3 separate regions of the Homo sapiens genome follow, and regions 1 and 2 are each linked to region 3. Evidence: fine-mapped expression QTL. A gene starts in region 3. Each other region holds a variant in brackets. All regions are shown on one strand. Distances are between the middles of the regions.

Region 1 (2,756 bases), 41 kb after region 3:
GGACCCAGCATAATGCTACAGGTTCTCCTCAGATTCAAGTTCTGAAGAAGAGAAGAAACCCCCAACTAAGGCAGTAGTCTCTAAAGCAACCACTAAACCACCTCCAGCAAAGAAAGCAGCAGAGAGCTCTTCAGACAGCTCAGGTAAGGCATATGGAGGCCCTCAGTTCAGTGAGATGCTCTCAGGCAGCTGCTAAGGGCTCCCCTGAATCCAATTTGGGGAGCTGTTGATTCCATCCCTTCTGTGTCTAGACTCTGACAGCTCTGAGGATGATGAAGCTCCTTCTAAGCCAGCTGGTACCACCAAGAATTCTTCAAATAAGCCAGCTGTCACCACCAAGTCACCTGCAGTGAAGCCAGCTGCAGCCCCCAAGCAACCTGTGGGCGGTGGCCAGAAGCTTCTGACGAGAAAGGCTGACAGCAGCTCCAGTGAGGAAGAGAGCAGCTCCAGTGAGGAGGAGAAGACAAAGAAGATGGTGGCCACCACTAAGCCCAAGGCGACTGCCAAAGCAGCTCTATCTCTGCCTGCCAAGCAGGCTCCTCAGGGTAGTAGGGACAGCAGCTCTGATTCAGACAGCTCCAGCAGTGAGGAGGAGGAAGAGAAGACATCTAAGTCTGCAGTTAAGAAGAAGCCACAGAAGGTAGCAGGAGGTGCAGCCCCTTCCAAGCCAGCCTCTGCAAAGAAAGGAAAGGCTGAGAGCAGCAACAGTTCTTCTTCTGATGACTCCAGTGAGGAAGAGGAAGAGAAGCTCAAGGGCAAGGGCTCTCCAAGACCACAAGCCCCCAAGGCCAATGGCACCTCTGCACTGACTGCCCAGAATGGAAAAGCAGCTAAGAACAGTGAGGAGGAGGAAGAAGAAAAGAAAAAGGCGGCAGTGGTAGTTTCCAAATCAGGTCTGTACCCAATGAACATGCCCTCTGGGTTTTGTCCCCCCAAATCAGGATGGGATATACTCTTTGAGAGTAGGGTAGTGAGAGGAGGCCCACCACTGGGCTTCCAGTTGTGGAAACTGGGAGGAAGAACAGGAAACTGGTTACCTTTTTTTTTTTTTATTAGAGTCTCACTGTGTCACCCAGACCAGGGTGCAATGGCATGATCACGGCTTGTGCAGCCTTAACCTCATGGACTCAGGTGATCTTTCCACCCCAGCCTCCTGAGTAGCCGGGACTACAAGCATGCACCACCATGTCTGGCTCATTTTTTTAACTTTTTATAGAGACAGAATCTCACTATATTGCCCAGGCTGATCTGAATTTCCTGGGCTCAAGCGATCCTCCTACCTTGGACTCCCAAAATGCTGGGGTTACAGTTGTGAGCCACTGTACTC[G/A]GCCTGAGTCTGGCTTTTTGTTTTGTAGGTTCATTAAAGAAGCGGAAGCAGAATGAGGCTGCCAAGGAGGCAGAGACTCCTCAGGCCAAGAAGATAAAGCTTCAGACCCCTAACACATTTCCAAAAAGGAAGAAAGTAAGTTGTCTCACTTTCTTCTCAGGAGCCAGCTCTTTAAAAGTAGAAAAATCTAGGATCATCTTGACAGCTCTGCCTGGCGTGACCTGGTACATGTGCCCATGTGTATCACTCAGGAGAACTGTTACATGACCACTCTGTCTTTAATTTCCTACTTCATTCTTCTGTAGGGAGAAAAAAGGGCATCATCCCCATTCCGAAGGGTCAGGGAGGAGGAAATTGAGGTGGATTCACGAGTTGCGGACAACTCCTTTGATGCCAAGGTGAGAGAGAGATCTGTGCCATTCTTGGGAGGGAGGATGGGTAGTGTCAGAGAGGACAATTCTTGGTTCAGGTTGGTGGGAATCTTCTCTGGGTTCAGGTTTCCTTGAGCAGGGAGTAGAAAGAATAAAGTGACAGGGCTCCAGCATGGTCCTCCTCTGTGTTAATCTCCCTCTCTACTTACCAGCGAGGTGCAGCCGGAGACTGGGGAGAGCGAGCCAATCAGGTTTTGAAGTTCACCAAAGGCAAGTCCTTTCGGCATGAGAAAACCAAGAAGAAGCGGGGCAGCTACCGGGGAGGCTCAATCTCTGTCCAGGTCAATTCTATTAAGTTTGACAGCGAGTGACCTGAGGCCATCTTCGGTGAAGCAAGGGTGATGATCGGAGACTACTTACTTTCTCCAGTGGACCTGGGAACCCTCAGGTCTCTAGGTGAGGGTCTTGATGAGGACAGAAGTTTAGAGTAGGTCCTAAGACTTTACAGTGTAACATCCTCTCTGGTCCTTTTCTGTGTTCCTAGTTTTGTACAGACTTGTTTTTGAGTGTTGAGTAGCAGGGACAAAATAAGGGAATGTTATTTTTTAAGAAAATTCATTTTCATTGTTGTCTCCTTCCTTTTCTGTGAAAGTCCTCATACTGAGAAATTTGTATATTTTATATTAAATCACTTACTATTGATTTTTGTTGTGATTTTCAAAGGTGGATTCCCACAGATAAAATCTTGGCTATTGCCCAAAACATAGTAAAGGGTCACGTGTGACTTTTTATAATAGGAAGAAAATTCTGCCTTTGTGAGTGCACATGTCCACATTTCATCCCTCCTTCCCTCAAAACCCTAGAGAGGGGCATTAAAGAATTGTTGATGTATATGCAATGTCTGTTAAGCATGCACTATGTATTTCATCCTCATTTATTGGGTCTGGGACTGAAGTTTTTAGCCAGCATGGACCTAACCTACTTTTTGGGATAAAATTCTCTGTTTTGTTACAGGCAAAATTCTGGTATGGCGTGAATGCCATGGGTCATTCTGAATA
Region 2 (2,756 bases), 27 kb before region 3:
CTCGCTCTGTTGCCAGGCTGGAGTACAGTGGCGCCATCTCAGTTCACTGCAACCTCCGCCTCCCGGGTTCAAGCGATTCCCCTGCCTCAGCCTCCGGAGTAGCTGGGACTATAGGCAGGCACCACCACGTCCAGCTAATTTTTGTGTTTTTAGTAGAGACGGGGTTTCACCATGTTGGCCAGGATGGTCTCGATCTCTTGACCTCATGATCCGCCCACCTTGGCCTCCGAAAGTGCTGGGATTACAGGTGTGAGCCACCGCGCCCGGCCTAGAGCCCAATCTTCTTGTTACCACCAATCTTCTTATTACCACCCATCCACCTTTTCCTATCACACAAGTTTTAACAGAATTGAAGCCACTTTGTATGATTTTTTTTTTTTTTTTGAGATGGAGTTTCACTCTTGTTGCCCAGGCTTGAGTGCAATGGTGTGATCTCGGCTCACCGCAACCTCCATCTCCTTGGTCTCAAGTAATCTGCCTGTCTCAGCCTTCCAAAGTGCTGGCATTACAGGCACTAGCCACTGCACCTGACCTAGCAGCCTATTTCATAACAGCAAAAAAGTGGAAGTAACACAAATGTCCATCAATTGATGAAAGGATAACTATAGGGCCGGGCACGGTGGCTGACGCCTGTAATCCCAGCACTTTGGGAGGCTGAGACGGGCAGATCACGAGGTCAGGAGATCGAGACCATCCTGGCAAACACAGTGAAACCCCGTCTCTACTAAAAATACAAAAAATTAGCCGGCCGTGGTGGTGGATGCCTGTAGTCCCAGCTACTAGGGAGGCTGAGGCAAGAGAATGGCGTGAACCCGGGAGGCGGAGCTTGCAGTGAGCCGAGATCGCGCCACTGCACTCCAGCCTGGGCGACAGCAAGACTCTGTCTCAAAAAAAAAAAAAAAAAAAAAAAAAAAAAAAAAAAGAAAGGATAACTAAAATGTAGTATATCCATATAATGTAATATTATTGAGCAATAAAAAAATTAAGCCAGGTGCAGTGACATGTGCCAGGAGTTTGAGTCCAGCCTAGGCAACATAGTGAGACCTTGCCCCTTAAAAAAAAAAAAAAAAAGAAAAAAGAAAAGAAATACTGGTACTTGCTACAAAATGGATGAGTCTTGAAAACCTCATGCTAAGAGATAGAGGCCAGTCACAAAAGGTCATATATTGTATGATTCCATGTATATGAAATGTCTTATAGACATAGATTAACGATTACCTAGGGCTGAGAGAGTGGGGAAAATGTGGAATGACTGCCAACGGATACAGGTGTTCTTTCGGAAGTGATGAAAATGTTTTAAAATCAATTGTGGTGATGGTTGCACAACATTATGAATACGCTAAAAGCTGCTGAATTGTATACTTTATTTATCTATTTATTTATTGACAAGGTCTCACTCTGTTGCCCAGGCTGGAGTGCATTTGCCTGATCTTGGCTCACTGCAACCTTGACCTCCTGGGCTCAAGGCATCCTCCCACCTCAGCCTCTAGAGTAGCTGATTACTACATGCTTGTCTAATAGTTGTATTTTTTTGTAGAGACAGGGTCTTATTATGTTG[C/T]CCAGGCTGGCCCCCAGCTCCTGGACTCAAGTGATCCTACCACCTCAGACTCCCCAAAGTACTGGGATTACAGGCGTGAGCTGCCTGGCCCAGCTGAATTGTCATTTTCATTTTACTTTTTTGAGATGGAGTCTCACTCTGTCACTGAGGCTGGAGTGCAGTGGCACCGTGTCAGCTCACTATAACCTCCATCTCCTGGGTTCAAGCAATTCTCGTGCCTCAGCCTCCCGAGTGGCTGGGATTACAGGCACCTACCACCATGCCCAGCTAGTGCTTTTTTTGAGACAGAGTCTCGCTCTATCCAGGCTGGAGTGCAGTGGCGCCATCTCGGCTCACTGCAAGCTCCGCCTCCCCAGTTCACGCCATTCTCCTGTGTCAGCCTCCCGAGTAGCTGGGACTACAGGCGCCCACCACCACGCCCGGCTAATTTTTTGTATTTTTAGTAGAGACGGGGTTTCACTGTGTTAGCCAGGATGGTCTCGATCTGCTGACCTCGTGATCTGCCCGTCTCAGCCTCCCAAAGTGCTGGGATTACAGGCATGAGCCACCACGCCCGGCCATGCCCGGCTAGTTTTTATATTTTTAGTAGAGGTGGGGTTTCACCATGTTGTCCAGGCTGGTCTCGAACTCCTGACCTCAGGTAATCCACCCACCTCAGCCTCCCAAAGTGCTGGGATTACAGGGGTGAGCCACTGCGCCCAGCTGTCATTTTTATTTTTATTTGTTTTGTTTTTGAGACAGATTCTCACACCGTTGCTCAGGCTGAAGTGCAGTGGCACAATCTCAGCTCACTGCAACCTCTGTCCCGGGTTCAAGCGATCTCCAGTCTCAGCCCCCAAGTAGCTGGGATTACAAGCGCCTGCCACCATGTCCGGCTAATTTTTGTATTTTTTGTTGTTATTGTTGAGATGGAGTCTCGCTCTGTTGCCCAGGCTGGAGTGCAGTAACGTGATCTCAGCTCACCGCAACCTCTGCCTCCTGGGTTCAAGCGATTCTCCTGCCTCAGCCTCCCGAGTAGCTGGGATTACAGGTGTGTACCACCATGCCCAGCTATTTTTTTCTATTTTTACTAGAGACGGGGTTTCATCATATTGGCCAGGTTGGTCTTGAACTCCTGACCTCACGTGATCCGCCTGCCTCAGCCCCTCAAAAGGCTGGGACGACAGGCATGACCCACCATGCCTGGCTCCCATTTATT
Region 3 (2,735 bases):
ATTGCTCCCCCAGCTTACCTCTCCACAAATCACTCTATTTCCTAGCCTGCCCTCCCACTAGGGCGGAGATGCCAGACCCAAGGGTCCAATTATCTGGCACCTCTTAGGAGTACCTCCGGTGCCTCAGGAGGGCCAACCTTCCCTGGCAACAGGCAGGAAAAGTTGAAGGTGGGGGGCAAGATGGGCCGCAATCAATACCTCCCTGCAAACAGGGTCCTCAGAAACAGCATGGGGGGGATGTCACAGGATAGGTAAGAGGCAATGGGCAGCAGGGAAGGGGGGGCAGCCCAAACCAGCCAATCACAACTCTATGGTGACCTGAGGGGGGGGGTCAAAAGTCCAGAGTCACTTCTGATTGGCTAACAACCTGGAATTCTGAGAATTTCAGCCCCCCCCAAACCTCTCCCCAATTAGCCTACCCCCAAAAAAACATACACATAAGCCACCCCCAGCGTCTCCTCCCCGTGTTTCTGGGCTGCTGCGCATTTACACAGTTGGGGAAAACGCTACCCGCCAGCCTGAGGCCCCGCGTAGCCCTTCCAGCCCCCGGCTTCCCCCATGCCATCGACGCCCCCCACACAAGTTCTCGCCAAACACGGGGTGAGGGGTCCGCAGGGACGGCTGGGCAGGAAGGGGCCGAGTGGCCGCACGCCCCACTCACCAGGACAGGCACAGCCCACTGACATCTTCACATCGCCCGCCTCTGGGGGCCCAGCCGAGTCACGGTGCCCGCCCCTCGCGGGGACAGGCCGGGCATGAGCCGCCGCCGCCGCCCGCGGCCCCCGCTGCGCTCGCCGCCGGCCCGGCCCGGCCTCGGCCCGGTGCGGGCGGCCCCTGGCTGCGGCGAGGGGCCTGTCAGGCGCGGAGCAGACAGGAAGGAAGCCAGGCAGGAAGGCGAGCGGCCTCTGCGTGTGTGCGCGCGGGTGTGAGTCCGCGGAGTGTGTGTCCGTGTGTGCGTGTGTGCGCGTGTGCGTGTGCGTGTCTGTGCGCTCCCGCCGCCGTCGCCGAGCGCCCCCCTCTCCGCCCTCGCGCTCGCGCTCCCTCGCGCCGGCGCCGGCTCCCCAGCCCAAGCCGGGCAGGGCCGGGCTTTATTAATATGCTAATTGTCCTGCTAGTGGGAGGGGAGAGCCGTGTCAAAGTGACCCGGGAGAGCGCGCAGCAAGCGACGACGTGCGTGCGCCGCGCGGCGGGCGGGCGGCGAGGGGCTGGGAGCGCTCGGGGAACGGCATGCATGTGACGCAGCTTTTAAAAAAGGAGACGGAGGCAGAGACCCCAGAGAGGGAGGGCGAAGGGGAGGGCTTGGAGGCGCAGCCGCGCGCTCGGTGTCCGTCCTCCGGGTGCCGCCGGATGGGGAGTCTGGCTGAGCCGGAGCGGGAGCCGCGGCTGGGGGAGGCGGAGCCGGGGTGGGCAGTGTGGTGTATCTCTCTCCACCCCGGGCCGCGCTCCGGGAGGGAAAAGGGACTGCAGACCCCCTGTCCGTGCTCCCTGCTGAGACGCCAGCCTTCTTCTGGAGGCCCCTTGTTTCGCGTCCCTACCCTAGGCTGGATGGGTAAAGAAGCATTCTCTTAATTCTTGTAGCAACCCCTCAACTCACCCCTTCCCTAAATTAACCACTCCTCCTTTGCCTGCGAAACCAGTTGGGACTAGAACTAAAAGGGTTAATTAAGTGGGGTCCCCGCCCTCCTCCGCCTAAGGGCTTGGGATCTGTGTTTTGCTGGGGGGAGGGGGCTGCGGAATGACCACCAGATTGGATTACGGAGGGGCGATAGGAGGCCATCCTTCCTTCTTGCAGACTGACGCATCAGTCAAGACACTCTCTTCCCTTCCCCCCTTTCTCCAGCCTTGGTGCCTTCACCTCCGTACCAACCGCCCAACCCCACCGCCTCCGACCCCCCTGCCTGGAAGCTGCTGTCCTTTGAGGGCTTCGGAGATGAGAACAGGAAACAGGCCCCTCCAGTGCCCCCTAACCCAGAGAGGCAGAGGCTGTGGGCCGTGGGGGGTTGGATGGGAGATGATGTGGATGGTCAATGTAAGGAACACTCCTTCCCCTGGGAGGAGCCTCCCAACCTTCAGTCACACTTCAAGGACTCCCCAACCCAGCCCTAGGAGGGGAGGGGCTCCATCTCCATCCCTTCCCAAAAGCTCAGCTTTAGCTGCCTCATAAACAGGAAATACCTATTAGCCAGGAGGAGGGAAGGGAGGGGAGCCGCCTGGAGTAGAGAGTTGACCCCCTCCCTCCTGGGGTCCCCAGCTGCTAGCTTTTCTTTCTTAAGTTTCAGTATGGGCTCCAGGGATAGACGATGGAGACTTGGACTAGTGTCTCCTCCCTAGGGCGTCTGGCCCTGACTGGGTAGGGGGTTCTCCTCTTTGTTACTTAGAGGGGTGTTGGTTGAGAAGGCTGTTTGGTTCCCTCACTCTGGCTCAGAGTCTGCACAGCTGGCTTGACTGGCTGGGGGAGGGTTACAAATGCGGAGGCTTAAAGTGTTTATGAGACCTCTTCTCTCCACCTTAGGTTTTTGCTGAGGGAGCATGAAATGATGGAACGGTGCAGAGTCCAGGGATTGAAAAGAAGGCCTGCCTAGGAATGGAGACCCTCCCCACCATGTGCTTAGGATGGGGGATAGGGGAGCTTGTACACTGTGGAGTCTCCCACCCCCAGGTTTCCCCATCTCCACCCCCACCAGGAGCAGAGAGGACCTGACTGAAGCCATCCACACTCACACAAGTATTTCCTT

Which allele goes with the higher level. Alleles are on the strand shown, and positions count from the first base shown. SD is a standard deviation of normalised expression in the study named. Not every link is listed here.
In carriers of allele G in region 1, the expression in whole blood of the gene that starts at base 944 in region 3 tends to be higher than with A alone (large effect, 1.1 SD a copy in Lepik 2017).

Evidence for each region. PIP is the estimated chance that this variant, and not a neighbour inherited with it, causes the effect. A credible set is the group of variants that fine-mapping cannot tell apart.
Region 1: its variant is the best candidate, but not a certain one, in a credible set for the expression of LDB1 in whole blood (Lepik 2017, PIP 0.89).
Region 2: its variant is the best candidate, but not a certain one, in a credible set for the expression of LDB1 in T cells (TOPMed, PIP 0.68).

The regions. Positions count from the first base shown.
Region 1 is chr10:102,160,201-102,162,956 of GRCh38, forward strand. It overlaps NOLC1 (nucleolar and coiled-body phosphoprotein 1), which reads left to right. Exons shown (of 13, transcript NM_004741.5): 9 at 33-143; 10 at 252-893; 11 at 1,356-1,462; 12 at 1,633-1,725; 13 at 1,911-2,756. The coding sequence ends at 2,069. Among named protein-coding and RNA genes, the nearest start is that of NOLC1, 9.2 kb to the left of the region's middle. The variant G/A (reference allele first, on the strand shown) is at 1,328.
Region 2 is chr10:102,092,232-102,094,987 of GRCh38, forward strand. No RefSeq gene overlaps it. Among named protein-coding and RNA genes, the nearest start is that of LDB1, 27 kb to the right of the region's middle. The variant C/T (reference allele first, on the strand shown) is at 1,559.
Region 3 is chr10:102,119,425-102,122,159 of GRCh38, forward strand. LDB1 (LIM domain binding 1) reads right to left here and starts at 944. Exons shown (of 11, transcript NM_001113407.3): 1 at 662-944. The coding sequence starts at 686. It also overlaps a transcript of PPRC1 not described here. RefSeq lists silencers at 584-653, 744-823, 884-1,183, 1,204-1,333 and enhancers at 830-1,581, 1,582-2,333, 2,334-2,735.